Linked DNA regions of Homo sapiens: region 1 is linked to region 2. A link means that fine-mapping ties the variant in region 2 to the expression of a gene that starts in the linked region. Tissue or cell type: whole blood. Region 2 holds a variant in brackets; the other region holds the start of a gene. All regions are shown on one strand. Distances are from middle to middle.

Region 1 (2,681 bases), 230 kb before region 2:
TCTTAAAAGTGTCTGGCTCAGAATAAGCACCATACACGTTAGGGGGAAAAACAGCAGCCGGATGTGAGGCCCTCCCCAATTTCGTTACTCCATAAACCTCTGAGTTGCTGGTAACACCTGCAGGAATGAGAAGGGCCTCAACATGGGCTGAATTTCCAGCCAAACTGTGGGAAGTGGCTGAGATTTTAGGTAGGCAAAAAATGTTAATGTAACATTTTTGGCCCCCAAGTTCTCAGACCACTTACTTCCCTTTCTAGTCCACTGACATGCCCGCAAGCAATTCCATTCTGCCAAGTGGTGCTGGTGGCAAGCCGGAATCCAAGAAAAGGAAAGACTCCGATTTTAAGGGAACGGGGACATGCGGAGCCACGTGAGTCACTGGGTCCCAGAGCCACGGAAGGCTCTCAGCTCAGCAGTCAGAGTGCACTCGTCATTGCGTTCGAGGTTAGGTGGCCTAGCCTGGGAACCAACTCACCGTCATTTGAAATCGTTTTAGGGAAAATGACCCTAACATTTAAAATCCTCTCTCCTGAAGTTGTGTGGTCCAGCCGTTTGCTGAAGGAGGAAGCAAAGCCGGTAGTAACTCACTACATATTTGGGCAGTGGAATGAACCCTGGAAGCTGACAAAGTCGAAGCAAGTCACTGCGCCGCCCCCCACCCCCACCCCCACCCCAAATAAAAACAGAGAGACAATCCTTCAATTATAAAGAAGACCACGGCGCCCGGGTCTCCGGCAGGGGCCGCTGCAGCCGAGCAGAACGCTGAGCCGCTCCGCCCCACGGCCTCCTCTCCAGCCGGCGCGCCCGCCTCCCGCAGGTGCGTCTCTGCCTGCGCCGGGCCGGGGTCTCCGCGGCCTCTCCCGCTCGGGCTCCGGCTTCGAGGTCCCGACCAAGCACTGCTCTCGCGGGACTGCGCGCACCGCCCAGGGCCTGCCGCGGGCTCGCGAGCGGAGGTGGCACCGGTCCGCGGTGCGCATGCGCGGCCCGGCCTCTGCCCTGCGGTCCCGGGCTGGTGACTGGCTAGCGGTTGGAGGAAGGGATGTGGGGGATGGTGGGTGGGTACAGAGAGCTGGGAGGGAGGCACCCCGGGGGGCGGGGCGTGGGAGACTGTATTCGGGGGCGCGAGCTGCCCCAGGTGAGCCGTGGCTCAGGTCCGGAGCGCGGTCGGGACACAGCGCCTCTAGGAGAAAGCCTGGAAGGCGCTCCGGGGGTACCCAGAGCTCTTAGCGGGCCGGCAGCATGTGCGGGGCCCAAGGTCTTCCGGGCTCTGCGTGGGGGTCGCTGCGGCTGGAGACCAGGGAGGGGGATGGAAACGGGGTTGGAAAGTAATCCCACCCGAGCAGGTGGGCATGGGAGGCCGCTGTGCTGGGGAGCCCCGCGAGGGCTCCGAACAGAGCCTCCCTTTTCAGAAAGGTCACCCTGGTCATTGCAGCTGCCAGGGTGACCGAGGAAGGTGGCCGGGGTGGAGGCAGTGGGCGTGGAGAGGGGTCGGATTCCGGACGTAGTTTGAAGGTGGAGCCGTCAGGTTCTGCTGAGCAGCTTGGCTATGGGGCGTGCGAGAAGGGAAGGCTCAGGGCCTAGTCCCTGGGCACGAGTAGTAGCCGGGAGGATGAAGTCCCAGTGCTTCGGGGGGAGGCGGCTTGAGGACGGCTCTGGAGCTCAGGCTTGCCCGCGTGGAGTGGAAGCTGCCTCTTGGACACAGGGCGGGGAGGCCGCATGCAGTCTGGCGCGCTGGGAGGATGGGAGATCCAGAGGGGCAGGGCTGGAGGGGTAGGAGGAAAACCTGAAGAGGGTGGCGCCCGGAAGCCCGGGAAAGTGATGAACTGGGTCAGAGGCCGGGTATCAACAAATAGGAGGGTGGAGACGACCTTGAGGAAAGCAGGTGATGGAACGGGAGGGAATGGGGCCCCCTAGTGGAGACACCTGGGAGTGATGTATTGCATTTATTTAGCTCTTAGGCGTTCAAAAATTATTTATTGGGAGCCTGTACAACTTTTTGCAGTTCATTGCATTATCCTTAGCATGTATTTTGTTTTATATAAATATATATTTATATAATTATTTTTATTGACAAATTTATATATTTATAGCGTACAGTGTAATGTTTTGATATATGTATACATTGTAGAAAGATTAAATCAAGCTAATTGACATATCCATCACCTCACCTACTTATTTTTTGTGGTGAAAATCTACTCTCCTGGAAATATACAATACATCATCAACTATGGTCACCATGCTGTGCAGTAGATCACTAAAACTTACTCCTCTTACCTAACTAAAACTTTGTATCCTTTGACCAACATCCCTCCCTTCCACATCAGCCCTCTGCCAGGCCCCTGGTAACCATCATTCTACTCTGCTTCTATGAGTTCAACTTTTTTAGACCCCAAGTATATAAGTAAGATCATGTGCTGTTTGTCCTTCTGTGCCTGGCTTATTTTACTTGGCCTCATGTCCTCCAGGTTCATCCATGTTGTTGCAAATGACAGAATTGCCTTCTGTTTTAAGACTGTATAGTATTCCATTGTATATATGTGCCACATTTTCTTTATCCGGTCCTCAGTTGATGGATACTTAGTTGCTTCTATATCTTGGTTATTGTGAATAATGCTGAAAACAACACAGGAATGCAGCTATCTCTTCAACATACTGATTTCAATTCCTTTGTATATATACCC
Region 2 (2,681 bases):
TACTATATACTTTTCAACGGGGTATTATCCAAAAAATTATATTAAAACATTACTACAAATAATACCCCATCTTCACAGTCCTAATTTGCTAAACCACCCAACAAGGCTAACCTGCTGCATCTTGGTGACCATATCTTTGTAGACGATGTCCATGTTGGCCTCCAGGATCTTGACCAATGCAGACACAATGATTTCTGCTTGTTGAGTAGCAAACCCTAAGCAAGCACACAAGCAAAAAAAATCATGCTCAGAGTTACAAAAGCCCACAGCAAATGCACACATTCATGTGAATGTCCAAATCCAGGAGGAAGAGTACAGCACAGTGTGGTAGGAGGCAGGGAGGAGGGTACAGCCACAAACTATGACGTGCCGGTCACTCAGAGCAAGCACGAAACATACAAGTTGGCTTCCCCAGGTACCGGTGGCTTTGCTGACTGATCTGTAAGTCGTTCCTAGCTATCAAAAGTCATGTTTTCAGAGACTATTTAATGACATAGACAATGCCGGCAAGTCAACATCAAGTGAAAAAAGGCAAGACTCAAAATTACAGATGCAATTCTTGTTTTTATAATTTAACAAAAATTCATAGTCATTTTTATTTTCTTCTTTATGTTTCTCTGCATTATGTAGATTTTCTACGGTGGACAATATTTCTTTAATTTTATAATGTGTACATTATTAAAAAATAATTTCCTTAAATAGGAAAGCTCAGTTGTTTTATGTCCAGCATAAGGCAGTCAAATCATTGACTATATAAATAGTAATCTAGCTGTTGGCTAACTTCATGTTAAAAGACAAAATCAGTTCTTTCATTTTTCCTCCACAATTCTCTTCAGTAACTAGTCTGGGGGACCCAAAGTAGAAAAAATATGTTCTTTGGTAGTCAATAAATGATACTGAATTGAATGATAGAGATTCAATGCAGTACTTGGTATTTTTTTTTTTTTGAGACAGAGTTTCGCTCTTGTTGCCCAGGCTGGAGTGCAATGGCGCGATCTCAGCTCACAGCAACCTCCACCTCCCGGGTTCAAGCCATTCTCCTGCCTCAGACTCCGGAGTAGCTGGAATTACAGGCATGCGCCACCATGCCCAGCTAATTTTGTATTTTCAGTAGAGATGAAGTTTCTCCGTGTTGGTCAGGCTGTTCTCGAACTCCCGACCTCAGGTGATCTGCCCGCCTTGGCCTCCCAACGTGCTGGGATTACAGGCGCAAGCCACCAC[G/A]CCTGGCCAGTACTTGGTATTGTTTTTAAAAACATTGGATAGTAACTCCTATTTAACATAAATTCTAATTAAATGCTTAAAACTGAGTGCCTGGGAAATAGTTCTATTAAATGCTTCCAGCTATAAGAATTTCAGAAGAATCTATTGATTCCTGTAATTAATTGTGTATTTCTTGGAATAAAGTAGTACTTAATTAATGGAATTTGTGTGGCTGAGATGAAGCATGGGACTATAATGAACAAAAAAACCAAAGACACAGATTTAAAGGAGAAGGAAAAAAACCTCCAAAGACCTATTCCCATCACTTTCGTCAAAATTCTTTAATTTTTCAACATGTTATACACATGTCTAGAAAAAAAATACAAAAGGTTACTCACCAAAATGTTAACATTGTTTAGCTCTGACTCTGTTTTCTTTTTTCTCGTCTGTCTTCCTAGTTTTTAAAAACTCAAACTAAACTTTTGCCAAATTTTAAAGTTTTATTAAGAAGAGTTCACTGGCTGGGTGTGGTGGCTCACGCCTGTAATCCTAACACTCTGGGAGACCAAGGCGGGAGGATCTTTGAGCCCAGGAGTTCAGAACCAGCATGGGCAACATAGTGATCCCATCTCCATTTTAATGTAAATAAAATTTTAAAAAATTTTAATTAAAAAAAGAGTTCATGTTTAAACATAATTAGGTTTGGCAACTGGACACAGTGGTTCACGCCTGTAATCCCAGCACTTTAGGAGGCCAAGGTGGGTGGATCACTTGAGGTCAGCAGTTTGAGACCAGCCTGGCCAACATGGTGAAACCCCGTCTCTAGTAAAAATACAGAAAAATTATCCAGGTGTGGTGGTGCATGCCTGTAATCCCAGCTACTCAGGAGGATGAGGTGGGAGGATCGCTTGAAACCGGGAGGTGGGGGTTGCAGTAGGCCAAGACTGTGCCACTGCACTCCAGCCTGGATGAAAGAGTGAGATTCTGTCTCAAAAAAAAAAAAAAAAAAAAAAAAAAGAAAAAAATTAGGTTTGGCAATGATGAGGAAAAGAAAAATAAAGGTAGAAAGAGAACTTATGTTGATTGTAAAACAAACTCTAAAGCCATATACTTTATAACCACTTGTGGGAGGAGAAAGGGATATGAAAAAGTAGAAGTCTTGGCCGGGCGCGGTGGCTCACGCCTGTAATCCCAGCACTTTGGGAGGCCGAGGCGGGCGGATCACGAGGTCAGGAGATCGAGACCATCCTGGCTAACACAGTGAAACCCCGTCTCTACTAAAAATACAAAAAATTAGCCAGGCGTTGTGGCAGGCGCCTGTAGTCCCAGCTACTTGTAGTCTTAGGTACTCGGAAGCCTGAGGCAGGAGAATGGCATGAACCCGGGAGGTGGAGCTTGCAGTGAGCCGAGATTGTGCCACTGTACTCCAGCCTGGAAGACAGAGCCAGACTCTGTCTCCAAAAAAAAAAAAAAAAAAAAAA

What was found. PIP is the estimated chance that this variant, and not a neighbour inherited with it, causes the effect.
Region 1: it holds the start of SIRT5, and the variant in region 2 is fine-mapped to the expression of SIRT5 in whole blood (INTERVAL, PIP above 0.99).

Annotation. Positions count from the first base shown.
Region 1 is chr6:13,573,490-13,576,170 of GRCh38, forward strand. SIRT5 (sirtuin 5) reads left to right here and starts at 1,112. Exons shown (of 10, transcript NM_012241.5): 1 at 1,112-1,255. It overlaps LOC105374937 (a long non-coding RNA gene), which reads right to left and starts at 945. Exons shown (of 2, transcript XR_926497.4): 1 at 476-945. RefSeq lists a silencer at 665-1,184 and enhancers at 877-1,463, 1,395-1,874, 1,464-2,049.
Region 2 is chr6:13,802,132-13,804,812 of GRCh38, forward strand. MCUR1 (mitochondrial calcium uniporter regulator 1) reads right to left here. Exons shown (of 9, transcript NM_001031713.4): 3 at 112-215. Among named protein-coding and RNA genes, the nearest start is that of MCUR1, 11 kb to the right of the region's middle. The variant G/A (reference allele first, on the strand shown) is at 1,222.